Linked DNA regions of Homo sapiens: regions 2 and 3 are each linked to region 1. The links come from fine-mapping of genetic effects on gene expression. A gene starts in region 1. Each other region holds a variant in brackets. All regions are shown on one strand. Distances are from middle to middle. Region 1 holds the start of TRNP1 (TMF1 regulated nuclear protein 1). Region 2 overlaps LOC101928391 (a long non-coding RNA gene). Region 3 overlaps AHDC1 (AT-hook DNA binding motif containing 1).

The links.
Region 2: its variant is fine-mapped to the expression of TRNP1 in whole blood (INTERVAL, PIP above 0.99).
Region 3: its variant is fine-mapped to the expression of TRNP1 in tibial artery (GTEx, PIP 0.98).

The regions. Positions count from the first base shown.
Region 1 is chr1:26,986,626-26,997,067 of GRCh38, forward strand. It overlaps TRNP1 (TMF1 regulated nuclear protein 1), which reads left to right and starts at 7,067. Exons shown (of 2, transcript NM_001013642.3): 1 at 7,067-7,987. The coding sequence starts at 7,162. The coding sequence ends at 7,845. RefSeq lists enhancers at 4,053-4,347, 5,925-6,426, 6,427-6,926, 6,680-6,839, 7,064-7,564 and silencers at 6,980-7,309, 7,340-7,399.
Region 2 is chr1:27,062,814-27,073,255 of GRCh38, forward strand. It overlaps LOC101928391 (a long non-coding RNA gene), which reads left to right. Exons shown (of 8, transcript XR_007065559.1): 8 at 799-2,772. Among named protein-coding and RNA genes, the nearest start is that of TENT5B, 55 kb to the left of the region's middle. The variant G/A (reference allele first, on the strand shown) is at 5,004.
Region 3 is chr1:27,555,749-27,566,190 of GRCh38, forward strand. AHDC1 (AT-hook DNA binding motif containing 1) reads right to left here. Exons shown (of 9, transcript NM_001371928.1): 4 at 2,958-3,135; 5 at 2,557-2,782. Among named protein-coding and RNA genes, the nearest start is that of AHDC1, 43 kb to the right of the region's middle. RefSeq lists enhancers at 1-222, 1,734-1,823, 7,126-7,853. The variant G/T (reference allele first, on the strand shown) is at 4,806.

The DNA of each region.
Region 1 (10,442 bases):
CCTGATCTCAGGTGATCCACCTGCCTCGCCCTCCCAAAGTGCTGGGATTACAGGTGTGAGCCACCGTGCCTGACCCATATAAAAGCTCTTGATATAACAATGGAGAGAAAGGAGCAAGGAGGAGAAGAAGAATGAGGAAGCATTGAATCAGGTGTTCACTGGCAGGCAGGAACACTGACAGGTGTGTAGGGCAACCAGAGACCTTGTGGGGAGGGCAGGGGAGTCTGTTAAGGAAAGGGAAGGTGGAGGCTGGGGCCTGACTGGGTTATTTTCGGAGCTGCTATCTTTGTCTGCATCTGCTAAATTATTAAACTGAGATCACTTCCTAGAGGGTGCCAGGCCAGGTTGCCAGGGAGAGGCTGAAAGGGAGAGGTTGGATCTCTTAGCAGAGGACTCAAATATTCTAGGCTGGGATGGACATATACTCCTCAGGCCTTGACCCCTTCCCCACCCCACTCTCAGCTAATGGAGGGGATTGGGGATCCTGCTTGGGGCCACAGCCACAGTCACTGTCCCCTCCACAAGGCTGTCTCTTCTGGCTGCTGTCCTGGAGGCAATAGATACATACTGGACCAGACTCTGGAACCTGGTCCCATCTCAGCTGCCTCTTCTCTTTCAGGGTCTCAAACTCAGGCCACAGGTTTTGAGTCAGATAGATACGACCAGATATGACCATAGATATGTGAGATCTTGGGCATATCCTTGCATGAGTCAATGTCCTTGTCTATGCCATAGATATTAGCCGTTCCACTTCTCAGATGAAAACCCTGACGTTCAGAGAACAAAGGTGCCTCTCTCAGGGTTGCATAGCTAGAAAAGGACTGAACTTCGATTCAAACATAAGTCTTTCTGATTTCAGGCTCCTTTCCTCTATTCTTTCTTTTTTAAATTTTTTTGAGATGGAGTTTCGCTCTTGTTGCCCAGGCTGGAGTGCAATGATGTGATTTCGGCTCACTGCAACCTCTCCCTCCTGGGTTCAAGAAATTCTGCCTCAGCCTCCCAAGTAGTTGAGATTACAGGCGTGCGCCACCACACCTGGCTAATTTTGTATTTTTAGTACAGATGGTGTTTCACCATGTTGGTCAGGCTGGTTTTGACCTCCTGACCTCAAGTGATCCACCTGCTTCGGCCTCCCAAAGTGCTGGGATTACAGGCGTGAGCCACCACGCCCAGGCTTTTTCTTTTCTTCTTCTTCTTGTTTTCTTTCTTTTTTTTTTTTTAAAGATACAGGGTCGGCTGGGTGAATACTAAGAATACAAAAATTAGCCAGGTGTCGTGGCGGGCGCCTGTAATCCCAGCTGCTCAGGAGGCTGAGGCAGGAGAATTGCTTGAACCTGGGAGGCGGAGGTTGCAGTGAGTTGAGATCGCACCATTGCACTCCAGCCTGGGTGACACAGTGAGACTCCATCTCAAAAAAAAAAAAAAAAAAAAGAGAGAGAGAGGGTCTTTCTGTGTCTCCCAGGCCAGAGTACAGTGGTGCAGACGCTGCTCACTGCAGCCTCAAACTCCTGGGCTCAAGGGGTCCTCCTGCCTCAGCCTCCCATGTAGCTACAGGCGTGCACCACCAAATCTGGCTAATTTTTTAAATTTTTCATAGAGACAGAGAGTCTTGCTATGTTGCCCAGGCTGGTCTCAAACTCCTGGACTGAAGCAATCCTCCCATCTTGGCCTCCCAAAGTACAGGATTATAGGCACGAACCACTGTGCTTGGCCTATTATTTTTATTTTTTGAGATGAGGTCTTGCTCTGTCACCCAGGCTGGAGTGCAGTGGCAAGAGACAGCTCACTGCAGCCTCGACTTCCTGGGCTCAAGCGATCCTCCCACCTCAACCTCCTGAATAGCTGGGACTACAGGCATGCACCACCATGCCCAGGTAATTTATTTTTATTTTTCATAGAGATGAGGTCTCACCATATTGCCCAGGCTGGTCTTGAACTCCTAGTTGCTCAAGTGATCCTCCTGCCTCAGTCTCCCAAAGTGCTGGGATTACAGGCATAAGCCACCTTGCCTGACAGCCTATTCTTTTTCAGTATTTTAGTATTTTATCTGTCTTCCAGATTTTCTACAAAAGGAATGTACTCTATAACTTTTATAAAGATCAGAAAAACACAATAATCATTACAGTTATGGATGGATTTCTTCATTCCAGGTGTTGTGTTTGCTGGGCTGGATGTGCACTAATAGGTGGTAGACTGTGGCTCCTATCCACTCCGAGAGTGTGGTGCTCAGGCCAGTTAAGAAAGCTGACAAGAAGCTGGGCACAGTGGCTGACGCCTGTAATCCCAGCACTTTGGGAGGCAGAGGCGGGCGGATCGCTGGAGGTTGGGAGTTCGAGACCAGCCTGATCAACCTGGAGAAACCCTGTCTGTACTAAAAATACAAAATTAGCCAGGCGTGGTGGCTCATGCCTGTAATCCCAGCTATGCGGGAGGCTGAGGCAGGAGAATCGCTTGAATCTGGGAGGCGGACGTTGTAATGAGCTGAGATTGCACCACTGCCCTCCAGCCTGGGCAACAAGAGCAAGACTCCGTCTCAGAAAAAATAAATAAATAAATAAATAAATAAATAAAATAAAAAAGAATAAATGAATGAATGGAGAAGGGAACTCTCCATTCTCAGCAAGCTCTACCCTTGTGTTTTCTTTTCTTTCTTTCTTTCTTTTTTTTGAGACGGAGTCTCTCTCTGTTGCCCAGACTGGAGTGCAGTGGCGCAATCTCAGCTCATTGCAACCTCTCCCTCCTGGGTGCAAGCAATTCTCTGTCTCAGCCTCCCCAGTAGCTGGGATTACAGGTACCCGCCACCATGCCCGGGTAACTTTTTTGTATTTTTAGTAGAGATGTTTCACCATCTTGGCCAGGCTGATCTTGAACTCCTGACCTCGTGATCCACCCGCCTCTGCCTCCCAAAGTGCTGGGAATACAGAAGTGAGCCACCGCACCCGGCCTACCCTTGTGTTATTTTTATTTTTCTTCCTTCCTTCCTTCCTTCTTTCCTACCTTCTCTCTCTCTCTCTCTCTTTCCTTCCTTCCTTCCTTCCTTCCTTCCTTCCTTCCTTCCTTCTTTCTTTCTTTCTTCTTTTAATGGAGTCTTGCTCTGTTGCCCAAACTGGAGTGCAGTGGTGTGATCTTGGTTCACTGCAATCTCCGCCTCCTGGGTTCAAGTGATTCTGCTTCAGCCTCCCGAGTAGCTGGAATTATGGGCATGCACCACTACACCCGGTTAATTTTTCTTTTCTTTTCTTTTCTTTTCTCTTCTCTTCTCCTCTTCTCTCCTCTCTCTCTCTCTCTCTCTCTCTCTCTCTGTCTCCCCCCACCCCCGTCTCTCTCTCTCTCTCTCTTTCTTTTTTTTTTTGATATGGTGTCTTGCTCCTGTTGCCGAGGCTGGAGTGCAGTAGCGCAATCTCAGCTCACTGCAACCTCTGCCTCCCAGGTTCAAGCAATTCTCCTGCCTCAGCCTCCTGAGTAGCTGGGATTACAGATGTGCACCACCACGCCTGGCTAATTTTTGTATTTGTATTTGTATTTATTTATTTATTTATTGAGATGGAGTCTCGCTCTGTCGCCAGGCTGGAGTGCAGTGCCATGATCTCAGCTCACTACAACCTCCGCCTCCCGGGTTCAAGCGATTCTCCTGCCTCAGCCTCCTGAGAAGTCAGGACTACAGGCTTGCCCCACCACGCCCAGCTAATTTTTTGTATTTTTAGTAGAGGTGGGGTTTCATCATGTTGGCCAGGATGGTCTTGATCTCTTGGCCTCATCATCCACCCACCTCGGCCTCCCAAAGTGCTAGGATTACAGGTGTGAGCCACCGTCCCTGGCCATATTTTTGTATTTTTAGTAGAGATGGGGTTTCACCACATTGGCCAGGCTGGTCTTGAACTCCTGATCTCAGGTGATCCATCTGCCTCAGCCTCCCAAAGTGCTGGGATTACAGGCGTGAGCCACTGTGCACGGCCTAAATTTTTCAATTCAGACAAATGTTTATTGAGTGCTTTATGGGGCCAGGCACTCTGCTTGACTTCAGGGGATTCTAGTGATAAGCAAAACCAGTCAAGGGGGAGAGACTATTAATAATTAAACAATAAACAAATACATACATATGACTCATAGGAAATACCACAGAGGATAGCAACAGGGAGCATTGTCAGAGAACAGGGAGGTAAGGAGTGACCACGGAGTGGGTCATATCTGTGTTTGAATTCTTGCTTGGCCATTTACCTGCTGTGTGAACTTGGGCAAGCCTCTTCACTTCTCTGGACTTTGGTTTCTCATCAGGAAGAGACGGCTATCAATCTCCCTTTCTTAGGGATGATATCACGAGACAGAGAACATTCATTCCTTCAATAAATATATACTGTGCATCTTCTCCCACTCAGATAAATTACTTGCCCAAGGTCACCCAGATGGGCAGTGTGTGTTGGTTTTCAACCCGGGTCTGACTGGTTCTCTGGATCTGGCCAGTGGTTGGGGGTGGAGATAAGTCCTAGTCTTCTTCCCCTGAATCAGTCCTTGAGGAGTTGGGAGCAGTGATCTGCCTCATGAAGGCAAAACACCTGTCCATCTCCCCACCACCATGGCAATGAGGGGCTTCTGCCCTGAGAAAGACCTATGATTGCATGACACAAAAGAGACTGTTCAAAGGGACACCATCATTCAGCAGGGCAAGCCTCCTTGCTGGGGGCAACCTGGTAGCTCCTGAGCCTCCCTCATCTTCACTGAGCCCCTCCAACTCTCTGAGTTCCCATGCCCCTCACTGAACCTCCCTTCCCCCATGGCGAGCCTCCGCCAGCACCTTTGCACACACTCAGCCCCTTCCCCCTACTGAGCCCCAGCACAGTCACTGAACAGCTCTTCTTCCCCTCTGACTGAGTCATCCTCCCAAGCCCTCCCCTTCCCCTCACTGAGTCTCCACCACCCCTGGTCACTGGGCACCCTGCTTCTGACCTCCTCCCTCCCCCAACCCCTCCACCCTTCCTCTTCACTGAGCCTGGCGCCTCTCACCCACCCGCCTTCCTCTCCCAGCCGCTTCTGAGCTGCCTCTTTGGAGCCCAACTGTCTCGCCCACGAGTCCCCATCACTCAGTCTCACTCACTCTAAGACACCTGAAAGCAGTTAGAGAACATGTGTTCATGGGGGGAGGATGAGGCTCTATCATCATCCTGCACATCATGCAAGCACGCCATCTGCCTCCTCTTCAGGCTTCAGCAGTCACACTGGCCATACCTTCCGCAGGTCCTCCTGAGCCCAGGGTCTGCTGCAGTCCTTCCCAATCGGGTTCAGAGCTGGTTTCTGGACCCCTGGCCCTTGCCCCCACCCACCACAGAGACCTCCCATCTCTGATGCCACCTTCAAGTAGATGGAAACTGAGGCAGGCCCATGGTGTCTGAGCCAGTGTTTGGTATGGCAGGGTCATTTCTGTTGGGGGAAAAGTGGGCAGGGTTCCATTCTATCATTTTGTCAGGGCCAGATGAGAAGTGTCAGATAAAGTCCCACATAAAGAACGTCCCTCCACCAAGAGGACTAGACCCAGGTATCTGAGCCCCCAGAGGGCATGAATGGCTGAGCTCGTGCATTTCTGTCCAGATTCAAAAATCTGGATTCAGCCACCAGTCGTCAATAAGACATTGGGCAAAGCACTACTGCCCTTCAGGGTCTCAGTTTCCCCTTCTTTATTTTTTATTTTTATTTATTTTTTGAGACTGAGTCTTGCTCTGTCGCCCAGGCTGGAGTACAGTGGCACAATCTCTGCTCACTGCAACCTCTGCCTCCCGAATTCAAGCGATTCTCCTCCCTCAGCCTGCTGAGTAGCTGGAACTACAGAGGTGCGCCACCACACCTGGCTAATTTTTTTGTATTTTCAGTAGAGACAGGGGTTTCACCATGTTGGCCAGGCTGGTCTAGAACTCCTGACCTTAGGTGATCCACCCACCTCGGGCTCGCAAAGTGGTGGCGGAGCCACCGCGCCCCGCCAGTCAGTTCCCCGCCCCCGCACACCCCCCTTCCCCCTTCCCGCCCCCGGCTTTTTTTTTTTTTTTTTTTTGAGACGGAGTCTTGCTCTGTCGCCCAGGCTGGAGTTCAATGGCGCGATCTTGGCTCACTGTAGCCTCCGCCTCCCAGGTTCAAGCGATTCTCCTGCCTCAGCCTACCGAGTAGTTGGGATTACAGGCGCCTACCACGACGACCGGCTAATTTTTTTCTATTTTTAGTAAAGATGGGGTTTCGCCATGTTGCTCAGGCTGGTCTTGAACTCCTGGCCTCAGGTGATCCGACCGCCTTGACCTCCCAAAGTGCTGGGATTACAGGCGTGAGCCACCGCGCCCGGCCAGTTTCCCCCTCTTTAAAATGTGTAGGAACACCGGCTGGGAGGAGTAAACACGAGCCGGGGCAGGGAAAGAACTTTGCACACCGTGGGGTCCGGGGCTCCTCTGTGATGCCACCAAGGTTTGCAGGCTCAGCGGCAGCGCTGAGGTATTTGTTCTGCGAATAAAGCGCTCTACCTATCGTGGAATCAGTCCAGCTAGATCCCCGTCCCACCAGGACGGCAGTCGCCCCTCTGCGTTAACCCTTCCACTGCCCTAGTGAGGTGGGAAAGGGGGTCCTTGAGAGCCCTATGGCCCAGGAGAGACCGGGCAGAACTGATTCGGCCAAGGGCAGCATGAGGTGTGGGAGGAGCACGGCACAAGGAGTCAAGCCTCCTGCGTTCTAGCCCAGGCTCTCTTCGCACAGAGGCCTTAGGCAAGACCCTCCCCCGGATGGAGACCGGATTCCGTGAATTTCTAAACACCAGCTACCAGAGCTTATGACTCTGAGGGGCCAAACCAGGGAAGATGAGGCTCCCTTTGCACCCAAAATTTGGGGAGAGGCGAAAGGGGACCGGATGCCCTAGCGGAGCAGAATCCGGCGAAGGGCAGGACCTGAAGGGTTTGGGGAATGCCCTGAATGTGCAGAGCGCGGGGGGGGGGGGGGGGGGCGGGGCGGATTCAGGGCGTGCCTGTCTCTGATTGGCTGTGCCGCCCGTCGCTCCGCCCCGTGTTCTATAAGATGCGCGGACGGCGGGCGCGCCTCTGGGGTGGGGGCTGTGGCCGTGTCTAGCTGTTCGGGTGTGCTGTGGTCATCCTCCCTGCGCACCTACAGCCGCAGACCGCCGGTGGGGGGCGGGGGATGCCGGGCTGCCGCATCAGCGCCTGCGGCCCGGGGGCCCAGGAGGGGACGGCAGAGCAGAGGTCGCCGCCGCCGCCCTGGGATCCCATGCCGTCCTCTCAGCCCCCGCCCCCAACTCCGACCTTGACTCCTACCCCGACCCCGGGTCAGTCCCCGCCGCTGCCGGACGCAGCTGGGGCTTCAGCAGGCGCGGCCGAGGACCAGGAGCTGCAGCGCTGGCGCCAGGGCGCTAGCGGGATCGCGGGGCTCGCCGGCCCCGGAGGGGGCTCTGGCGCGGCTGCGGGGGCGGGGGGCCGCGCGCTGGAGCTGGCCGAAGCACGGCGGCGGCTGCTGGAGGTGGAGGGCCGCCGGCGCCTGGTGTCGGAGCTGGAGAGCCGCGTGCTGCAGCTGCACCGCGTTTTCTTGGCGGCCGAGCTGCGCCTGGCGCACCGCGCGGAGAGCCTGAGCCGCCTGAGCGGCGGCGTGGCGCAGGCCGAGCTCTACCTGGCGGCTCACGGGTCGCGCCTCAAGAAGGGCCCGCGCCGCGGCCGCCGCGGCCGACCCCCCGCGCTGCTGGCCTCGGCGCTGGGCCTGGGCGGCTGCGTGCCCTGGGGTGCCGGGCGACTGCGGCGCGGCCACGGCCCCGAGCCCGACTCGCCCTTCCGCCGCAGCCCGCCCCGCGGCCCCGCCTCCCCGCAGCGCTGACCTCCACGCCCGGACCCCTGGCCACCCCGACAAGCTTCGCCGAGGTGCCGACCGACCGACTGATCGCGGACGCCGGCTGGAAGGACTACGGATCCGCAGGAAGAGGCAGTTGGGGGCCAGGGGCCCAGTAGAGGAGGCTGAGGTGCGGTCTTAGCGGCTGGTGCGTTCGAGGGTCGGTCATGGCGTGTGGGGGGCTGGTCCAGGGCCCGGGAACTCCCTTCCCTGGAGCTTCTGGCGTCTGCTGGGTCCCTAGTAAAGCTGCCACTTTCTGTTGCCGCCTCTCCCGACCATCTGGAGAGTGAGAGGTGGTAGCATCAAGTCTCCATTATAAGAGTTGGACTCTTGAGGGGGCTCAGATCCCAGGAACGGGTTGGCGGCAAACTTTTACCACTTGGAACCTGCCGCACGGATGCAGCACCCCCCATCCTCACCCCCACTTGCGTGGCCTTTCCCGGGCCCCTCGGAGCTGTGAGCAGTCTTGCCCTTGAGGATGCTGCTTCCTGGCGCCGCCCAGCTCCGTGCCTTCGGGAGGACAGAATAATGAGGCCCCAGGATGGGGTGGAGGCTGGCACAGGGCTGTACCACTGAATTCCCCCTCTAGGCCTGTTTCACCTTTGGGGAGACGGAATCCCAGAGAGGTTTAGGATTTGTTCTCTTCATACTTAGGCCCTTCTTCTTCTAGGAGACAGCTTTTCTTATGCCGTCATGCAGGTTCGCAAAAATTACAGCCTGACTCACATAACCAGGACAGGATGTCTGGCACCTGCTCACCCAGGGATCCTTACATAGCAGAACCTAGAGGCTTAACTCCCAACCTGTTACTAAGATGGCTCGGCCAGGTTGGAACCAGGTGATACCCTTTAACAGGCCCCAAGGGGGCAGGTGTGGTATCAGCTTCCAGAAAGGGGGGCCTTAAAGAGCCAGATCTGAGGTGAGATCTGCTTCTCTTCCTGTCCAGATGCCCTTCAGTCTCCCATTCCTCTGTCCCCACTGTGAATGACCTGGCTACCACATTGCTGCTCACCAGCTGAGTTAATTTCACTCTCACTTATCAGTCTGCGAAGTGGATCTCTTAACCTCCCAGAGGGGCTGTGGTGACGTTAACCCAGGGCAGAGGTCCTTCTTCTTCCTCACTAAATCATGGAAAGATAATTTTTTTGTTGTTGTTGTTTGTTTTGAGACAGTGTTTCGCTCTTGTTGCCCAGGCTGAAGTGCAATGGTGCGATCTTGGCTCACTGCAACCTCCACCTCCCGGATTCAAGCGATTCTCCTGCCTCAGCCTCCCAAGTAGCTGGGATTACAGGCATGTGCCACTATGCCCATCTCATTTTGTATTTTTGGTAGAGACCGGGTTTCTCCATGTTGGTCAGGCTGTTCTTGAACTCCCGACCTCCGGTGATCTGTCCGCTTCGGCCTCCCAAAGTGTTGGGATTACAGGTGTGAGCCACTGCACCTGGCTGATAATGTATTATTTTAACTCACACCTGGAAACAGGCACTGCTTTTGCTGATAGAGCCATGAGCTAATTTAAAGTCCTACTTTTGCAGGGTGGAGAGGGGATTTCTCAAGGTCACATGCCAGTGAGGGAAGAATCAAGGTCCCTGGCCTGTGTGTGCACCTCCCACAGTACCCTGGGCAGGGGCTAGGGAGAGTTGTCCTCTGGATCCTGTCTGCTCTGTGACTTAGAACAACTCTGCCCCCTCTCTGGGCCTCTTTCCTCAGTCCCTCCTTGAGTCAGGGCTTGGGAATGGGGTGAAGTGGGGAGGATGCTTCCTTCCACAGGAATCTGGGAGGGTCAGGTGCACTGCTCTGATAGGCTGAGGCTTGGGGCCCTTATGGGATCCTCCCTCATCAGCCCTTCTCCCTGGATACCAAACTTTTTGGCTGGTTTCTCGGCTAACAGCAAGGCTTTCCTGAACCCTTTCTTAGCTGGGGAAGGGAGGTTCAGGAGGGAGTCTCAGAGCCTCTGACAAAGTTAGGGAACCCCAGGGAAGTAATGAAGGGGGCAATGCCATCCTCTGGTCTTTCCAAACAGGGAACACCTTCCAAAGCCACTTGGGTCATTTGGGGTCTAGAGGCTTAGAGAGGACAGGACATCTTGGAAAGAGCTGAGCTCAGGCCTTGGTGCTGGGCTGCAGCCAGGACCATTTGTTTTCTGGGTTGCATGGGAGGGGGCACTTGGTCCGGAGAAGCTTTTAGCTAATGGTGTAAAGTGCTCGGTGCCATCACAGTTTTGGCTTTCTCCAGGATTTATTTGTAATCAGCTTGTCCCGATTTGGGGGTGGGGTGGGTGAGTAGAGAATTAGAGACGACACTGGCTAGTGTGTGTGTGTGTGTGAAGTAGAGGGTAGTAAATGGAGATTGGTCCTGGTGTCACAGGCAGCTCTGCCCCCTCCCTCCACTTCCAGATGTCCCACTGCTCCTCATCAAGCTTCCTGGCCAGGGCACACACATGTAGACTTGAACCCCAGCTCCTAGTTAGTGCTATGTCCATTACCACATAGCCAACTAACAAAAGGCACCTCCCACACCTGCCTGACCCTCCAGGGCCCCCTCTAGAAGCTCACCCGTCTGGCTTTATTCAGGCTGGGTGCGGT
Region 2 (10,442 bases), 76 kb after region 1:
TGGCAGCATCCTAAGGGCTTTATGTGACCTGTATGAACTCATTTAATCCCCACTGGCTTGGCCAAGGCCACAGAGCTGAAGAGTGGCAGGCTAGCGTCCGGACTCTCAGCTATGTACCAGGCTGCTTTTCTGGAAATGTTTTCCAGTTCCCCCGTGGGTGAAAGGCCTGTCCTTCCCACACCTTCCACAGTGGAAGTGGCCTCCATTCTCTGCTGTGCAGAATTGCTGGTGGAGAAGTGGGTGTTGGGGAGCTGGGGGCAGGAAATAGAAGATATTGGACAGAAATGTCCTGCAGTTGTTTGAAGCCTAAACAAAAACCCTTTCTTGGCCAGGTGCGGTGGCTCATGCCTATAATCCTGGCACTTTGGGAGGCTGAGGTGGGCCGATCACTTGAGGTCAGGAGTTCAAAACCAGCCTGGCTAACATGGTGAAACTCCATCTATTCTAAAAATACAAAAATTAGCCGAGTGTGGTGGTGGGTGCCTGTAATCCCAGCTACTCGGGAGGCTGAGGCAGGAGAATCACTTGAACCCGGGAGGCAGAGGTTGCAGTGAGCTGAGATCGCGCCTCTGCACTCCAGCCTGGGTGACAGAGCGAGACTCCTCTCAAAAAAAAACAAACTCGTCCCTCTCCCTCTCCCTCTCCCTCTCCCTCTCCCTCCACGGTCTCCCTCTGATGCCGAGCCGAGGCTGGACGGTACTGCTGCCATCTCGGCTCGCTGCAGCCTCCCTGCCTGATTCTCCTGCCTCAGCCTGCCCAGTGCCACGCCTGACTGGTTTTCGTTTTTTTTTGGTGGAGACGGGGTTTCGCCGGGCTGGTCTCCGCTCCTGACCGCGAGTGATCCGCCGGCCTCGGCCTCCCGAGGTGCCGGGATTGCAGATGGAGTCTCGTTCACTCGGTGCTCAATGGTGCCCAGGCTGGAGTGCAGTGGCGTGATCTCGGCTCGCTACAACCACCTCCCAGCCGCCTGCCTTGGCCTCCCGAAGAGCCGAGATTGCAGCCTCTGCCCGGCCGCCACCCCGTCTGGGAAGTGAGGAGCGTCTCTGCTTGGCCGCCCATCGTCTGGGATATGAGGAGCCCCTCTGCCTGGCTGCCCAGTCTGGAGGGTGAGGAGTGTCTCTGCCCGGCCGCCATCCCATCTAGGAAGCGAGGAGCGCCTCTTCCCCGCCGCCATCCCATCTAGGAAGTGAGGAGCGTCTCTGCCCGGCCGCCCATCGTCTGAGATGTGGGGAGCGCCTCTGCCCCGCCGCCCTGTCTGGGATGTGAGGAGCGCCTCTGCTGGGCCGCAACCCTGTCTGGGAGGTGAGGAGCGTCTCTGCCCGGCCGCTCCGTCTGAGAAGTGAGGAAACCCTCTGCCTGGCAACCGCCCCGTCTGAGAAGTGAGGAGCCCCTCCGTCCGGCAACCACCCTGTCTGGGAAGTGAGGAGCGTCTCCGCCCGGCAGCCACCCCGTCCGGGAGGGAGGTGGGGGGGGTCAGCCCCCCGCCCGGCCAGCCGCCCCGTCCGGGAGGTGAGGGGCTCCTCTGCCCGGCCGCCCCTACTGGGAAGTGAGGAGCCCCTCTGCCCGGCCAGTCGCCCCGTCCAGGAGGGAGGTGAGGGGGTCAGCCCCCCGCCCGGCCAGCCGCCCCGTCCGGAAGGGGGGGGGGGTCAGCCCCCCGCCCGGCCAGCCGCCCCGTCCGGGAGGGAGGTGGGGGGATCAGCCCCCCGCCTGGCCAGCCGCCCTGTCCGGGAGGTGAGGGGCGCCTCTGCCCGGCCGCCCCTACTGGGAAGTGAGGAGCCCCTCTGCCCGGCCAGCCGCCCCGTCCGGGAGGGAGGCGGGGGGGGGTCGGCCAGCCGCCCCGTCCGGGAGGGAGGTGGGGGGGTCAGCCCCCCTTCCGGCCGGCCGCCCCGTCCGGGAGGTGAGGGGCGCCTCTGCCCGGCCGCCCCTACTGGGAAGTGAGGACCCCTCTGCCCGGCCAGCCGCCCCGTCCGGGAGGGAGGTGGGGGGGACAGCCCCCCGCCCGGCCGGCCGCCCTATCCAGGAGGTGAGGGGCGCCTCTGCCCGGCCGCCCCTACTGGGAAGTGAGGAGCCCCTCTGCCTGGCCAGCCGCCCCGTCCGGGAGGGAGGTGGGGGGGACAGCCCCCCGCCCGGCCAGCCGCCCCATCCGGGAGGTGAGGGGCGCTTCTGCCCGGCCGCCCCTACTGGGAAGTGAGGAGCCCCTCTGCCCGGCCACAACCCCGTCTGGGAGGTGTGCCCAGCGGCTCATTGGGGATGGGCCATGATGACAATGGCGGTTTTGTGGAATAGAAAGGCGGGAAGGGTGGGGAAAAGATTGAGAAATCGGATGGTTGCCGGGTCTGTGTGGATAGAAGTAGACATGGGAGACTTTTCATTTTGTTCTGTACTAAGAAAAATTCTTCTGCCTTGGGATCCTGTTGATCTGTGACCTTATCCCCAACCCTGTGCTCTCTGAAACATGTGCTGTGTCCACTCAGGGTTAAATGGATTAAGGGCGGTGCAAGATGTGCTTTGTTAAACAGATGCTTGAAGGCAGCATGCTCGTTAAGAGTCATCACCACTCCCTAATCTTAAGTACCCAGGGACACAAACACTGCGGAAGGCCGCAGGGTCCTCTGCCTAGGAAAACCAGAGACCTTTGTTCACTTGTTTATCTGCTGACCTTCCCTCCACTATTGTCCTATGACCCTGCCAAATCCCCCTCTGCGAGAAACACCCAAGAATGATCAATAAAAAAAAAAAAAATAAATAAAAAATAAAGGCACTGAAAAAAAAAAAAAAAACAAACAAACTCATTCTTGTGGTGTCAGCCCACAGAGCCGTCACCTTAGATAGGCTCTGCCCTTCTTGGGACCCTAGGCTCCTGGATCTGTTGCAGTATGAGTGGGGTGGGAGGGGTGGTCATTTGAGGGATGTAGACACCTGATAATTATGGTTAAGAATTTGTAGGCCGGGTGCAGTGGCTCACGCCTATAATCCCAGCACTCTGGGGGGCTGAGGCGGACGGATCACAAGGTCAGGAGTTCAAGACCAGCCTGACCAACATGGTGAAACCCCATCTCTACTAAAAATACAAAAATTAGCTGGGCATGGTGGCATGAGCCTATAATCTCAGCTACTCAGGAGGATGAGGCAGGAGAATCGCTTGAACCCAGGATGAGGAGGTTGCAGTGAGCCGAGATGGCGCCAATGCACTCCAACCTGGGCAAAAAAAAAAAAAAAAAAAAAAAAAAATTTGCATATTCAAATTCCTGCTCTGACACTTACCAGCTATGAGACCTTTGGCAAGTACCTAAGCTTTGTGAGTCTCCATTTATTTTTGTTTAGAGATGGGGTCTCGCTCTGTTGCCCAGGCTAGATTGCAGTTGCATGATCATAACTCACTGTAACTTAGAACTCCTGGACTCAAGTAATCCTCCCGCCTCAGCCTCCCAAGTAGCTGGGACTATAGGTTCATGCCACCATGCCTATGCCTGGCTAATTAAAAAAATTTTTTTTTTTGTAGAGACAGAATCTCACTATGTTGCCCAGGCTGGTCTCAAACTCCAGGCCTCAAGAGATCCTCCTGCCTCAGCTTCTCAAAGTGCTGGGATTACAGGCATGAGCCACAACATTCAGCCCGAGTCTTAGTTTCTTTGTGGGTACAATGAAGATCTTGGCAGTTGTCAGGGTCAAATGGCAGAATATATGTAAAGTCCTTAGCATGGTGCCTGGCACATGGTAAGCACTTATTAAATAATGGTTGTCATTATTAATTCAACAAGCATTTACTGAACATCCTCGTGGTACCCGGCACTGTGTCAGAAGCAGACCCACTGGCAGTGCCAGAGCCCAGCAATTGCACCTCGAGGCTCCAAACACACACAGACTTAAGAATTCAGCAGAACAAGAAGCCAGAGTTAGAAGTTCCCTGAGAACAAAAATCTCTGGAGTGTACAGAGGATGGAGGGAGGGCTTCGCATGACCCAGGGCATGGGATGGGGCTTGAGGAAAACTTGCCTCAGTCCCGTGAGCACCCCTGCCGACACCCAGTTTATAGACATGGCAGAGTGTGCCCCCTCCTCCTGGCTGGCAGAGGCCTGACTCTGTGAAGGTGTTGGGGCAACATCCCCAGGTGGAGGGGGTGAATTTTGTTTGGTCCTAATTAAATATGGCTTCCATTCCTTTTTTATTTTCGTTTGTTTGTTTTGAGACAGTCTCACTCTGTTGCCCAGGCTGCAGTGCAGTGGTATGATCTTGACTCACTGAAACCTCCGTCTCCTGGGTTCAAACAATTCTCCCACCTCAGCCTCCCGAGTAGCTGGGATTACAGGTGCCCACTACCACACCCGGCTAATTTTTGTATTTTTAGTAGGGATGGGGTTTCACCATGTTGACCAGGCTGGTCTCGAACTCTTGACCTCAAGTGATCTGCCAGCCTCAGCCTCCCAAAGAGCTGAGATTACAGGTGTGAGCCACCGCGCCCCACCACATTCCCTTTCATTAGCAAAGAACTTGCTCAGAGTCATGCAGGTAGTAAGCAGGCAAAGCTCATGTTTCAATCTGTGTAGTTTGGGTTCAGGGGTGGGTTGTGTGTGTCCCTGTTCCAGAAGATAAGAAATAGTAGGACCAGGCTGGGCACGGTGGCTCATGCCTGTAATCCCAGCACTTTGGGAGGCCGAGGTGGGCAGACCACGAGGTCAAGAGTTCAAGACCAGCCTGACCAACAGGGCGAAACCCTGTCTCTACTAAAAATACAAAAAACTAGCTGGTTGTGGTGGCGCATGCCTGTAACCCCAACTACTCAGGAGGCTAAGGCAGGAGAATTGCTTGAACCAGGGAGGCAGAGGTTGCAGTGAGCTGAGATCGCGCCACTGTACTCCAGCCTGGGTGATACAGCGAGACTCCATCTCAAAAAAAAAAAAAAAAAAAATAGTAGGTCCAACCTCACAGAACTGTGGGAGGAATTAGGCTTAGAACTGTAACTGGCACTCAGGAAGTACACAACTGAGGTTAGCCGATTTTAT[G/A]TTTAGCTTGCACCATCTTCTCCCTCTCTCTGTTTCTCTGTTTTTCTCTGTTTCAGCTTCCTTTTTTTTTTTTTTTTTTGAGACGGAGTCTTGCTCTGTCACCCAGGCTGGAGTGCAGTGGCGCCATCTCGGCTCACTGCAAGCTCCGCCTCCCGGGTTCACGCCATTCGGCTGCCTCAGCCACCCGAGTAGCTGGGACTACAGGTGCCCATCACCATGCCCGGCTAATTTTTTTGTATTTTTAGTAGAGATGGGGTTTCACCGTGTTAGCCAGGATGGTCTCGATCTCCTGACCTCGTGATCCGTCTGCCTCGGTTTCCCAAAGTGCTGGCATTACAGGCGTGAGCTACCGCACCTGGCCTTTCTTTTTTTTTGAGACAGAGTTTCGCTCTTGTTGCCCAGGCTGGAGTACAATGGCACGATCTCGGCTCACTGCAACCTCCGCCTCCCGGGTTCAAGCGATTCTCCTGCCTCAGCCTCCCAAGTGGCTGGGATTACAGGCGTTAGCCACCACGCCTGGCTAATTTTTGTATTTTTAGTAGAGACGGGGTTTCACCCTGTTGGTCAAGCTGGTCTCGAACTCCTGACCTCAGGTGATCCACCTGCCTCGGCCTCCCGAAGTGCTGGGATTACAGGTGTGAGCCACTGTGCCCAGCCTGTTTCAGCTTCTTTAGACACTCTTTGTGTGCCTTAAGTCACTATTTACAAAAAATTAAATACATCTCTACATTTTCCCACCTCCCTTGCAGTAGCTCTAGCCAAAATAACTAAGTTCTGGCACGTAGAAGTGGCATATGCAACTTTCAAGAACTGCCCTTAAACGGAGGCAATGTGTCTTTCTCCTCCCCTTTCTTCTTTCCTGCTGCATGAAATGTAGGCATGATGGCTCGAGCTGGAGCAGCTATTTTGGGCCATGAGACAAAAGACAAATGCAGAGAATTTGGGAGCAACAAGACAGAAAAAGTCTAGGTCCCTAATGATTGTGGCATCACTGTGCCAGCCTGGACTGTATTCCTAGAGAGAATAAAATTTAAATGAGAGCAACAAAATTCTATCACATTTAGGCTTCTGTTATTCAGGTATCCATCATTCGTAGCTGAAATGAATCCAGATTAATGCTGGAGTAGAACTTGGATTTAGACCCAGGCTTGCCTGACCCTGAGAAACTCCACCAGTGTTTCTTAAAGTGTTGATGGGTGACTACCTGAATCAGAATCACGGTGAGAAGCGTGTTTAAAACACAGATTATAGGCCAGGTGCAGTGGCTCACATCTATCATCCTAGCACTTTGGGAGGCTGAGGAGGGAGGCTCACTTGAGCCTGGCAGTTTGAGACCAGGCTGGGCAACATAGCAAGATCCCATCTCTACAAAAGAATTTTTTTTTTTTTTTAAGACAGAGTCTGGCTGTCGCCCAGGCTGGAGTGCAGTGGCGCCATCTCAGCTCACTGCAATCTCCACCTCCCAGGTTCAAGTGATTCTCCTGCCTCAGCCTCCCAAGTAGCTATGATTACAGATGCACGCCACCACATGCTTGGCTACTTTTTTTCGTTGTTGTTCATTTGTTTTTTTTGAGACGGAGTCTTGCTCTGTCGTCCAGGCTGGAGTGCAGTGGCGTGATCTCGGCTCACTACAACCTTCACCTCCTGGGTTCAAGCAGTTCTCTGCCTCAGCCTCCCAAGTAGCTGGGATTATAGACACCCGCCACCACGCCCAGCTAATTTTTGTATTTTTAGTAGTGATGAGGTTTCACCATCTTGGCCAGGCTGGTCTTGATCTCCTGACCTCGTGATCCACCCACCTCGGTCTCCCAAAGTGCTGGGATTACAGGCATGAACCACTGCGCCCAGCCTTTTTTTGTATTTTTAGTAGAGACGGGGTTTCACCATGTTGGCCAGGCTGGTCTCGAACTCCTGACCTCAAGTGATCTGTCTGCTTTGGCCTCCCAGAGTGCTGGGATTACAGGAGTAAGCCACTATGTCCAGCCCCTACACAAATTTTTTAATTAGCTAGGCATGGTGGCGCACACCTCTCTACAGTCCCAGCTACTCGGGAGGCTGAGGCAGGAGGATCACTTGAGCCCAGGAGTTTGGGGTTGAAGTGAGTGCCACTGCATTCCAGCCTGGGTGACAGAAGTAGACCCTGTCTCTAAAAAAAATAAATAAAATAAAATGTCTATTCTGGTATACCACTCAGCTCTGCTGAATTAGACTCTCTAGAGCTGGGACCTGGGCAGTTCTCCTTTAACCACGTTCTCCATGCAGAGGACTTCAAGGCACACTCAAGTTGGAGACCACAGGGCTTCATTCTGTGTCCTCATGTAACTCTTAAGAAAATCAGGAGTCCATTCCGAACCCTTGGGTGAACTGAAGGCAGGTGGAGATCAGGGGACTTGGGGGAGGCAGTGAGGGTGGAGGGCAGGGGTCAAGCACCCAGGGCCTCAGGTCATCTGTGTCCATCCCCTGAGGCAGGCTCTGGGCAGCCCTCCCTGAGGAGGTAGCCCTGTCCCCAGGGCCCTGGATGGTGAGGATGACCCAGCCTTCGTAACCCTGCCCTCACACACAGCGCTCACTCCAAAGCTTGCTGGAATCATCTGAGGCTACCAGTGTCTACAGCACATCGAGCTACCCTTATGGAGCCTGGGACCAGCCCCAGGAAGCCAATCTCAGCTCAGGAGCCAGGATTTTAGTGCAAAGCTGCGCCCCCTTCTGTAAACCATGGTTCTCCTGAGAAACAGCTCATGCCTTTGGTAAGCTCCTGGGCCCTGGGGAGATGGAACACCTGACTTGCGGCACCTGGGGACCATGTGACCAGAGCTGAGCACTGTCTGACCTTGCCACAAAGTCAGGTGTGCCCAACGGTTTCTGTCATCAAGGGGAGAAAGTACACGTGGGTGAGGGCTGAGCGCAGGCATGTCCTGAAGCCCAGCTGAGCCTCTCAGCAGGCAGCTCCTTCCCCAGAGTCCCTTCTCCAGCTTCCCAAAGCCCCTGCGTCCGCCCATACCTTGGGCACAGGTCCCTAAGACCAACTGAACACTCGAGCATGAGCCAGGCAGACAGCCTGGGTGGATGCCAGCAGAAAGATTGGTGAAGACTGGATCTCCTGGGCAGAAGCGGTGACAGGCACATGGCGTCCAGTGTGAGGCTGGAGGCATCAGGGAGCACAGGGATGCAAGCCCCTCTACGTTCTCCCTTGTCATGGCTGGGTGTGAGAATGACCTTAGGCAATGGGGTGGGGCATGAATATTTTGAGCTTGTGCCAGCTGTGTGGTGGAGCGTGGGCCTGTACGGAGGCACTGCACTCCCATCTCCCTCGGCTCCCAACTCCCTCCGTGGGAAGCTGAGTTCAGGCACTGCCCCTCCTGTATGGACAGGGAGCCACTGGTCCCAGCTTGCTGGTTGCCAGGCAACCCAGGATGAGCCTTCGAGGTCATTCCTCAGACAACTCTGAGCTCTCTCCACAGCCTGGGAACAGATGGTTCCGCAGCAGCCAGCCCCAGCCTGAAATGAGTTGCGGAGGCACTGCTGCCTGTCTCCACCAGCAAGAGGGAGGAGAGGCCCTTCCCGTGCCTGCAGCAGTCCAGGGTAGATGCAAGCAGAAAGACTGGTGAAGACTGGAGCTCCTGGGCAGAAGCACTGACAGGCACGTGGGGTCCTGTATGAAGAGCTGCACTTTGTGTGAAAGGAAAGGTGGCCCAAGGTCTGGCTCTACTTCAGCCGGGGCAGTGGCTGGTGGTCTTGCCGGGTGGGCCAGTCTTGGGAGGGGGTGATGGGGAAGTTGGTGAAACAGAGGCACTGGGTCAGCAACTATGTGGTGGGACTCTCAGAAACGGCCCAGATTACAAGAGAATGCTTGACCCGAGTGACTGTTTACCAAAGCCCTCCCCCTCAAAAGAGGCTTTTAACAGTCAGGTGACACCTGTGGGTGTCACCATCTTCCCTTTCTCTATTATTAGGACCTGGACAAAATTCAAGAAGATGTCCCAACCACATGTAGCCTTACCTTTGATACTTCCAATTGCAATGAGACTTAAATTTTAGAATAAGAGATACACGCTGGGCGCGGTGGCTCACGTCTGTAATCCCAGCACTTTGGTAGGCCAAGGCCGGTGGATCACCTGAGGTCAGGAGTTTGAGACCAGCCTGGCTAACATGGCAAAACCCCGTGTCTAGTAAAAATACAAAAATTAGCCGAGCGTGGTAGTGCACGCCTGTAATCCCAGCTACTCAGGAGGTGGATGCAGGAGAATCGCTTGAACTCGGGAGGCGGAGGTTGCAGTGAGCCGAGATTGCACCACTGCACTCCAGCCTGGGTGACAGAGCAAGACTTTCTCAAAAAAATAAAAAAATAAAATAATAATAATAAAAAGAGGATACAGACCATTTACAGGGTTTTTCCTGGTCCATTATCCTGCTCTAATAATGCCAATCAACATGTGATCATTATTCCCTGGGGACAGAACTAGTCACCACTAGTTTGTGACTCTACCTCATTTGAGGTGGCATCCAGGGTGACATCCCAGACTTCCTTACCTTACTTGAAGCACGATGAGCCTTAATTTTCGAATAGAAATGTTGACCAGCAAGCCAGCTTTTTTTTTTTTTTTTCCAGGACAAGGATAAATTCCCTTAAGAATTTTGCAAACATCACATGTTTTCTTTCCCCTTGTTGCAATATATGTAATTTATCTCCTGGTGTAACTTGCTTAATAGTTACCGTTTGTTAATTCCATCTGCTTCCCAAGAGGAGAACATACTGTTACGTGGTGAAGTCCTGGGTTCTGTGAGTCTCCCATAAGCCACAGCTGGTCAAGAAACGAATCAATGGGGCCACGAACAAAGTGGCCATGGAAGCAGGTATGGGTGAAGGCATGAGGGCAGGCACGGGGGCAGGCAAGGGGGCAGGCAAGGGGGCAGGCACGGAGGCAGGTATGGAGGCAGGTATGGAGGCAGGCATGGAGGCAGGCATGGGGGCAGGCATGGGGGCAGGTACGGGGGCAGGTACGGGGGCAGGCACGGAGGCAGGCACGGAGGCAGGTATGGGGGCAGGCATGGGGGCAGGCATGGGGGCAGGCATGGAGGCAGGTATGGGGGCAGGCACGGAGGCAGGTATGGGGGCAGGCACGGAGGCAGGCATGGAGGCAGGCATGGGGGGCAGGCATGGAGGCAGGTATGGAGGCAGGTATGGGGGCAGGCATGGGGGCAGGTAAGGAGGCAGGCATGGAGGCAGGTAAGGAGGCAGGCATGGGGGCAGGTATGGGGGCAGGCATGGAGGTTTTGCCCAGCTTCTCCAGTACGACCTTCCCTCACCAAAGCCAACCTGGTTGCCATCACCTCTGAGTGGCCACACCTGAGCCCTTGTGGCTCAGCCAGCCAGCTGGTGACTGCCTGGTTACACAAACATTTTCCTTCATGGAAGACAGCAATTTGTCCTCCTTCGAT
Region 3 (10,442 bases), 570 kb after region 1:
AGCCTTCCCCGCCCTGGAGACCTCCCAGCTGGGGCCTGAGGGTGTGATCTTGGCAGAAGAGAAAAACCTCCTCTCCGGTGGTGGCTTCTGTTCAACCCACCCGTGAAGACCTCTGGGCACGTCCTCCTGCCAGGCCTCCTGAGGCTGGCCACTGCTCTCTTTTGCAGCCTCCAGGATCTGAGGGAAACAGCTGGCTCCCCTCCTCACCACACCCCGGCGGCCATTCTCTTGGACCCCTCCCAAGGGTACCACCTAGCCCTGGTCTGTGGACAAAGTCAAAGGGGTACTTCTGTCTGCCTGTCTGCTGTTGGGTCAGTGTGTCTGAGCTTGCCCATAGGGACACCAGCTGGTTGGGAGGGGGCTGGGGGCCCCAACCTGCTGTGCACAGTGCCGGGAAGCGCCAGCCCACATCCTTGAGTCCCCAGCCCCACCCTCCCCGGCTGTGGCTGTGACCACCCCACCCCTTCCCCAGCCCTCCTTCCCCTCCCCCACCCACTGCCTCCCCAGGGGAGCCAGGCTGCCAGCCCCAGCTCTCACTTCCGGCCTCATGACCCTCTCTCCAGCTTGCACACTCCTCCTCCCCCACCATTTCCCTCCCAGCCTGGTTCGAAGGCCCTGGGATGTCCTCAAATGGAAAACACTGCATCAAAGGGGCCATTACTGCTGCTCTGAGACCTTCCCATCACCTCCCTTTTCCTCCAGGGGCCTTATCTCTCAGGATCTGTCCCTCAGGGACTAGTCATCACCTCTGTCCACCTCCTTCCCTTCAGCCGCCTACCTGCCCACACAGTAACACCTGAATATCTTCTTTCAACCTGATCCCAGGCACAATATCATAATACAAATAACAATGATGGCAATAATAATGGCAGCTGTCACTCATTTGGCATCATTTAAATAGAGGCACAGAGAGGTTAAGTTATGCCCTTAAGAACAAACAGCCATCTCATTCAATTAAGCTGGTGTCTGAATTTAGGTTGGGCTTCTGTAAATCAAACTTCTTTGGTGTCCAGAGATTCAGCGCCCTCCCCTGCAGCCTCCTACAACGGTCCTAGTCCCAACCATCAGTTCTAATTTTTGACTTCTAATCTATCCTCCTCTCAGCTTCTAGTCACCACCTCCCACCAACAGCCATCCAACTAGATGCACTACTCTCCCTCGCCACTAGGTGTCCCCTTGGAGCCACTGATGCCCCCAAGGGGAGCTGGCCCTGCCCCGCCCCCTGGGGCCATCAGGGCCCCCCCACAGCACAGCACAGCAGTGCACACCCCACCCCACCCTACCCCCAGCCACACAGAGCTCCTTTGTGCAACCCTCGCCCACCCCCTTCCTCCCTGGAACAGGGCACCTGGCAAGCAGGTCTGCCCCAGAACCGCCCCCTGCCAGCCCCCTGCCCTGGGTGCCAGGTGTGTGGGCGCCACCGCCAGCTCTGGCTGGACCCGAGGGTCACCCTGCCGGCGGCCCTCCCTTCCTCCCTCCGAGGTCACCCAGGGACTAAGCTTCCCGCCCTGCTCCGCCCCCCTCCCCTCCTGCCCTTGGCCCTTCCAGACTCCCGTCCTTGTCTTTCCTTCTGTCTCCCGGAGGACTCCCCTCCTCCAGCCCCACTAGGCCTTCCCTGCAGCCTCTCACCCCCGCCCACCTCCTTCCCCAGAGAGCTCCTTGTTCCACGCCCCCCCGCTCCCCGCCCAGGTCTGAAGAACTCCTCCTCCTGGAAAGTTGCTGCTGGAAAGGAAGTGACTTCAGCAATTTGGCCACAAGGCTGGGCACTGCTGAGCCCAGCTCAGCTCAAGGCTTGCCCAACCCACCTCCAAAGCACAAATGGAGCCACATGTGCACATCACTCCCACTGTGCACCCAGAACCCTGAGCACACACTTAGCCAGTGTACACACAGATCCCCGTGTGCATACACCGTACCATCGCAGTGTATTCAGATCTTGTCTATACACACATCTCTCCAGTGTACACTAGCACCCTTGCACACATGACATCCAGTGTGGCACACACAGTATCCCCACACCTGCCCAGTACACACCCAGAATCCTGCATATTCATACTTCCGGGTACCACATACACAGCCCTTGAACGCTCCCCAGCCCAGTCCACTTACACAACTCTTGTATATTACCCCATGTGCACGGAAGGACAGAGCCTTCCACACACACCTGCTTGCACACAAGCTTGAGTGCCCTGTACATTTACATTCGGATACACACAGCCTCGCATCCTCCCACAGCTGTACCTCCCCACCCTTACAATCCCAGGAGACTCCACCCCCAGACCTCAGGCCCCAGGAATGCTCCTTTGGAAGTAGGGTGGGGTCCCCAGGCAGGCTCAGCTCTAGGGAGCTTCCTGGAGCCGCAGGCTTCATGTGTCAGTTCAGGGAGTTGCCTCTGCAGGGCAGGGCAGCTTCACCTGGCTCTGCAGCTCCTGAGCCTGGGTGGGCTAACCTGGGCCAGGAGTAGGGAGGTGGGTCCTGCCACTGCCCCCGCCCCCTCCCTGTCCTGCAAGGGCACCTTAGCATACCTGGGCTACCCAGGCCCTCCCAGCACCTCACCTTGGCCTCCCAGTTCTCTGCTTCCACAGACTCCGGTAGAGAGGTGTCCTGGGGGGGTCAGCAGCTGCACACATCAGGCACTCTGGTTTCCACCTCTGCCCTGAGTCCTGGTCATTGTCACAACCCCTTTCTCCTCCCAGTTCTCTCAGGTCATCAAGGCGCAGGGAAGAGTCCTCAGGCTAGGAGGTAGGACTCACTGTATATCCATGAGCCTCAGTTCCCCTTTCTGGATAATGGGGAGTTTGAGTAAATGTTGGGTTAATATGTTTTGATTCTGTAAAGAAGCTCTTTTTGACCTAAGCTGGGAGGGGATCCCTGTTGGGACTGGGAGGCAAGTTCCCCTGATCCCCACTTCCTGGGGGTGGCCCAGGCCCAAGCCTGACTTCCCTGCACACTGTTACCTGAGCAGGCTGCGAAGATAGGCTGGGCTCAGCAGGAAAGGCCTGTCTTCATCAGCATCTCCAGGGTGGTCTCTGCAACGGCCTGAGCGTCGCCCCGCACTCGGGGCCCTCTGCACACGCTCAACTGGGTGGGCTCTGGGGTCCAGGCCGATGGGTTGACAATCAGGCAAGCTCCCATCTGTGGAAGCAAACACAGCACCACAGAGATAAGCATGGACACAGGGTAAGCCAGCCAGACAGCAGGGTGCAGGCGGACACTGAGCCAGGAAGCTCTCCTACATGGAGTCCCATCCACCTCCAACCTCATCGCATTATCCCACCTGGGAACTGTGAGACTCTTTTTAAAAAAAAAAATAAGAGAGACAGGGCCTCATCTCGTTTTGTGGCCCAGGTTGGAGTGCAGTGGCATGATCATAGCTCACTGCCTCCTTGAATTCCTGGGCTCAAGTGATCCTCCCACCTCAGCCTCCCGAGTAGCTGGGGCTACAGGTATGCACCACCATGCCTGGCTATTTTTTTTTTAAATTTTTTGTAGGGACAGGGTCTCACCATCTTGCCCAGGCTGGTCTCGAACTCCTGGGCTCAAGCAATCCTCCAGCCTCAGCCTCCCAAAGTGCTGGGATTGCAGGTATGAGCCACTGCACCAGCCAAACCTGTTTCTTGAAACCCCAGGCTCCTACTGAGAAGCAATGTTTTTGCACATCTATGTACACACATGCATATACATGCACATATACTATAGTGGAAGGAACCTGGCCTTTGGGAGTCTGACAGTCCTTGGCTCAACCTTCATAACTGTGTGACTCTGGGCAAGTCAGTTAACTTTTCTGGCTCTCAGTTTTCTCATGTATAAAATAGGAAAAGTGAGATCTTATGAATGGGGAGGAACATCTGGGGAAACTATAATGCAAACAGGTTACTGACAATGCAGATGTGAGAGGTGCTGTTCAGAGTGATGGTGGATGCGAATTTCCACAAGGGTGTATATGCAGCTGGCGTTTACCCATTTCCATCAGTAACTAGTTATGTCTCTTGTTTTCTTTAATAACCATGGCCCTCCTCACCACCCCCCTGCTTCCTGCCCATTTGTCTGCCTCCTCGAGGTCTGTACTGGAGCCCAGAGGGGGTCTGGGAACCAGGCCTCACGGATTGCTTATAGGTTCTGGTTGCCTGGGAGTTTGTATGCGTGTGATCGAGATTCTGCCTGTGCAAATGCATATCTGTCAAGGCTCAGCTGTCTGGGTAAATATACCTGTATGTGGGTTCCTGGGTCTATTTAGCCTGTTCGTGTGCTTCTCTGTATTTCTGTACGTCTGTGTGGGTACATGTGGGCTTAAGCGTGTCCATGTGTGGGATCACGCGTTTGCTCAGTTGTGGCTGCTGTGGTCAGCTGTGTGTGTGTATGTGTGATGCCAGCTTAAGTGTGTGCCTGGATTTGGTGTCTTCAGTCATACATGTGGGTATGTGCACTTTTCACGTTTATTTCTATTCGTTTTGTGTGTGTGTGTGTGTGTGTGTGAGTCTAGCTAAGCCTGTTTGTGTGTGAGGACACAGGGGTGCATGTGTGCCTGTGTGTAGCCAGGTGAGCCCAGCTGTGGCTGGGTGTGAGCATGCCTGGGTGTGCACACGCTTTGCCTGGCTCTCTGCATCTCGCTGTGTCAGGAGCCAAACCGGCTCCTGCCTGTCTCAGAGCTCTCTGGATGTGTGTTTGGCAGGGGGTGGGGGCGTGAGGCTGATCCTCTGCTGTCCCTGCAGGTTTCCAATCTCGAGGCCTGTGACTGCAGGCACTGGTGTCACTGTGGATCAGTGTTGCCTCCCTCCCACCTCTGCCTTTCTCTGGGTTTTCAG[G/T]GTCATGGTGTGGCAGTGTGACTGGCCACAGTGTCCCTGTGGGTCTCTTTCACCATGGGTCAGTATGTGCTCGTGTGTGTGTCCATGCATGTGTGGATTTGTGTGACCTTATTGTGTGTCTGTGTACCACAGCGTGTCTCTGTGTATGTCAGTGGGTCCTTGTGCTATGTCACTGTATGATTGTGCCAGTATGGCCGTGTGTCAGCGTCAACATGTGTGAGCAGGTCTGTGTGCCATGGTGTGTCAGCACAACGGTGCCCCAGGGTTTGTGTGGTACCTTTGTGAAGGGCTCAGTGTGTGAGTGCGTGTGTGCATGCATGTGAGATACCCTTTGTGAGACGGTGTGTGTGTGTCTGTGTCACTGTGTTTGTGTGTGCCTGCTTCCCTCTTCCCTCCCTCTCCCTCCCTTCCTCTCTCTCTCTCTCTGTAGGAGCCAGACAACTCCCCAAGCCTGGATTAGGGACAATTTATCCACAGGCAGAGAAGGAGAATTCCAACCTGCCAGAGCCTCCCTCCTCTGATCTGTCCCCCCTTTCCCTGTGGTTGGGTGGGCACAGAAACACAGCCCGGCAGCTCCCAAGCCCTTGGGGAGCCCCCACCTTTGCAGCTCCCCAGAGGCCCAGGAGGAAGGAAAAGATGGAAATCTGGGTGGCCCTAGAGCCCTCCAGTGGGGGTAGATTGGCTGCCCCCCATTCAGGCCCCCACAGCTCGGCTCATCTTGGCCCTGTTCTCCTACATATGGTGGTGGTGGGTGGGAGGAGTCTGCATGGGGTCTGCCTGGCCCTGAGTGTTGGGGGGGAACTTCAGGAGCAAAGCTGCCCTTAGCCCCTCCACAACCTGATACTCCCCAGCAGATAAACGTCAGGCCCCCACCCAGTGTAAATGAACTTCCAACAGTGCCCACACAGGCTGGGGGAGCTGCTGGGAGGCAGAGGACAGTGTGGTGGGGGGAACACAGCAAGGAGGGGTGCAGGGGCTGGGCTGGGACTAAGGCTCCCTTCACGGTGCTCCAGGCGCAAGGCAGAATCACATGTTTCCCATTAGCTGCTCTGGCCTCCTTGTTCAGGGGGTGTTGGCTGGGGGAGATTTGTTCTGGTTGCAGACACCAGCCGAGACCACACAAGAGAGAGAGAGGAAAAGACAGAGAGAGAGAGCGTGCCAGAGGGAGAGAGGAAAAGACAGAGAGGAAGAGGGAGAAAGATACACAGGGAGACACAGAGACATGGGGAGAGAAACAGAGACAGAGAGACAGAGAAAGACAGAAACTGGAAGACGGGCACGCACAAACACAAAAGCAGAGACGGACTGGTGATGAGGGGCTCATGGAAGAAGGGAGATGGAGAGGAAGGTAGAGAGAGGCGGGTGAGACCTTGTCAGAGGCTGAGGGGAGGGGGTAGCTCAGGCCCAGAGTGAGTCTGAGGCCAGTAAGGACCAAGGAAGAGCCCCAGAGGGGAGAGAGGCACGGGGGAAGCGAGCCAGGCAGAGATGGGAAAGGCAGGAGAGAGCAGGGACCAGGGGTTTCTGCAGGAGCCTGAGAAAGAGGCAGCGAAGCAGAGGCAGGGTGGGCCGGGGAGAAGGGCCGAGGGGAGGCCTGTGTGGGCAGTAGACAGGCCAGAGCTGGGATGTGTGGGCAGGGGGAGTGGACGCGCCCAAGCTGGCTCGGCGGGGGCGGCCAGTGCGCCAAGCCTCCCGCCTCCTGACCCCCGAGCCTGGGAGAGATAACAGGCCCGAATAGTGCTGACTTGCGGTTCAGAAATCCAATATCCTCCCCGGTGCACTGATCGACTGACTACCTGAGCTCCCGGCCCGCGCAGAGCTGCCCCGATTAATCCTGTGGCTCCAGAGCCTTAATTAGTTTAACAGTTTCAGGGGCAGGAGAGGCAGGAAATAGGGTCCCCAGGCCCTCAGGGACACAGCCCCCTGCCTCCCATGCAAACCCTGCCTTGGTGCCCCACCTCACAGACACACACCTGCCCTGGCCCTAAAGGCCCTTCTCCACACCATCTGAAGAATGCTGGGTCCCTCCCCCTGGGGAACAGTCCCACGGGCTGACATATGGGTGAGAGGGTAGATCATGCGGGACTGAGCACCCCCCAGCTCCCACTTGTCCCTCTGCTCAGGGCCCTAAGCATTTCCTCTGGCCAGCCCTTTGGGGCTCTGTGGTCTGCATGGGAAGGCCCCACCAGCTGCCAGCCCCGTATCACCAGAAAACATGTCGTCTCTTTAGAGTGAGACACGAGCTCCCAAGTTACTGACAACTTCCCAACAGCATGAGAGAATCACACATGCCACTCCCCACAACAGCCTGCGACGGGCACATGGTGACATCTCACACACACAACAGCCAGAGACAGGCGCACAAGTTGGTGACAACCCTCCTAACGGGATGAACTAAGCACATAACCTGTCGCTTCCTCCAAACATGAGATGGGCACACCTGACACACCCTCGACAGCATGGGGCAGGCGTCTGTTACCCCTCACAGTGGCATAACTGACACGCAACCAGGCACCCCCACACCCACTAATGCACAGAGAACCTGTTACACAGCTGACCAAGACACACACACACGCACGCACGCATGCATGCACACACCCACACAAAGAACCTGTCACATAGTTGACCAAGACACACACACATGCACACACACACAGAACCTGTCACACAGCTGACCAAGACACACACACACGCACGCATGCATGCACACACCCACACAAAGAACCTGTCACATAGTTGACCAAGACACACACACATGCACACACACACAGAACCTGTCACACAGCTGACCAAGACACACACACACACACACACACACGTGGGACAAGTCCCATCTTCCAGGTGTGAGGAAGGCATGGACCCCTCCACCCACCACACAGCATGAGGCAGGGACATAACCTCGCCCCTGCCTGGGAATCCTCCCTGCAGACTGTGGGATGGGTACACAACATGTCACCTCCCCGGCTGCCTTGGACAGGTGACAGCCCACCTCACCCCTCCCCCATCACTGTCACCAGCCTGGGTGGTGCCGTCCCTCTGCCTGCAGAGGCGTCACAGCTCACACGGCATGAATGTCACCCCAGCACTGCCAGAGCCGGGCACAGCCACACATTGCCCCAGTGACAAACACCACTGGCCCCAGAGGAGGTGAAGGCACACAGGGCTCTGGTGTGACCTTGGCCTCTGGACACCAGGAGGGGAGGTGCTGTGGCTTCCCGCCCAGTGGCGGGTGCTGGGGGAGAGGAGTGCTGGGGAGGAAGCTGCCTGGACACACTGACTACCTGGAAATGCCACCTCCCCCAGCCCTCACTCCACTCCATTTCTTATTCACTGTAGTTGTGTATCTAGGGAGGGGGCTGAATGAGTGGTGGAGGGAGGGCTGTCCTGAGGCGCTGTTACTATGAGACTGCTTAGAGATCAGTGGGGAGTAGGGCGGTTAGGGGTTGCTATCACCATGTGCTCAGTGGGAAGAGTATGGGATAATGGCTTGAGACCCCCATAGCTTCCAGGGGAGCCCTTCTTCCTTACAAAGGCCCCCTCTCCAAACTTCAGGCCACAGAGCTGGGGACAAGGAGGCCAAAGTCCAGGAACATGACTCACCCAGGGAACAGGCCCAGCCTGCTGGCCATAGTGGTGAGGGAGGCCAAGAGCCAAGAGGCCTGGGTTCCAGTCTGAGCTCCTCCAGGGCCAAGCTGGGTGACCTTGGAGCAGCAGCTCAGCCTCTTTGGCTTCGGGGAGGGGGGAAGGGGCCGCAGTGAGAGAAGTGCCAGGGTCAGAAAGAAGAAGCTGAAGCTGGAGACCAGCAGGCAGAACTTCAGGCCACAGAGGGCTCCAGCCCGCCTCCCCTGCTCCCCTGCTTCCTCACAAGGAACCTCATCTTCCTCATCTGTACAAAAGGGACAAGAGTGCCAGCCTCATGAGACAAGGTAGCATAAAGTGGGCCGCTCCTCAAGAAATGGGAAGCTTCTGATTGAAGAGAGGGAGAAATAGACTAAGAGACTTGCCCAAGCCACAGAGCAAATTAGGATCAGCTGAACTCAGCCTCCATCTCCTGGCTCCCCACCTGGAGCTGTTTCTTTAAGACTGCTTGGAGGTCAAGTGTGGAGGGGGACAGGGGAGATGTTGGGGTGTTGTTGGATGCAGTGCCTCCCTGCCGCCCGATGAAGACCAATGAATCTGATAGGAGTCCACCATGCCCTACCTTTACCCTAAACCCCACTTGGCCCAAAGCTTGGACAAGAGGAGTGGCTCTAAGGGGAGGGAGGCACCCCACCTCCCACCCCATCATGACCAGCAGCAGCACCTGGTGCTTGGAAGGACTAGAGGACCTGAGATGTCAGTGTCTAGGGCCCCTCGTTTTACAGGAGCCCAGAGAGGGAAAGGCCTAGCCTGAGGTCACACAGCACGACAGCACAAGAGCCTAGAGTCCTGGCCACGGACAGCCTCAGAGCAGAGTCCCCCTAGCCCCTGGGGGTGGCTGGAGCTGGGGGGCCCTGGGGGACTGAGTAAAGCGTGGCGACAGATGGCCTGCCGAGGCAGCGGCGATCTGGGCGGCTGGCAGGCATGCTCGCTCCCGCGCAGGGAAGCGGCTAATTTTAGCTGAGGCCTCGATGCCAGCTTTGTTCCCCCCACCCACCCGCCGAGGGGGCCCAGCATGCCTTGCGTGCAACCTGCCTCCCCCAGGCACCCCTACTCCCCCGCCTGGCCCCTTGGTGAGTAGTGCCCAGACCCCAGGATCCTAGAACGGTCTGCCTGACCAGGCCTCACCACACCCAGAGGTGAGGCCTGACTCCCCTACCCCAGGGCCTGTTTGCCCACGACTCCAAGCTCATTCCATGAAGAGGGGCGAGAGAGGAAGGACAGAGGCCACTGCCCAGACTGGGAGGGCGGGCCAGACAGCAGGGGCTGCCAGTCTTGAAGGGAGGCGAGGCACTGTCCTCCACCCAACCCTTAAGGAGACAGGACCCTGATTCCACCCATGCCCTGGACAAACATTCTGTCTGGTGTCCCCCGGCGCTGGTGAGCAAGGGGCGGGAGTCACTCTAGTCTTTCCTTGTTCCTCATAACTTTGAGTTTGTTCCAGGAACTCAAAGCACTTTAAAGAAGTCAGACATGAAGCAAGGATAGTATCCCTATACCATCTGGGGAAACTGAGGCACAGTCTGAACTTGCCATCATTTTAGCAAGGGAAGGGACAAATCCCAAGAATCAGTGAGGCCTGTTCTCTAGAGAGCTTCTTGGGCCAGTTTAGCTCCTGGAACTATCTTCTGTTCCTACCCTGGGCTAGTGGAAGGTAGACTAGATGGATGGAGCCCATCCCCTAAAACCCTGGAAAGGCAGACTCACACTCTTGTTTCCTGGTGCCACACTCTCTGTAGGCTCTTCAACCTTGCACCCTCCATTTCAGGTTCAACCACATAAGCCCAGTGGGGCTTCCAGGACATCTGGCCCCTACTAAAAAGAGGGATCCTTTGGGGTGACTCTGGAGCCCTGCCCCCTGCACCAGCTCCCCAATCTTCATAGGCCTGGGAAGGAAACAACCTGGTAGGAAATAGAGTAAGGAGAACTGAAAGGCCCAGCTCTGAAAGAAAGATATGTATTTAGAAGGACAAAGTCAGAAGAAAGACAGGGGGCGGGAGA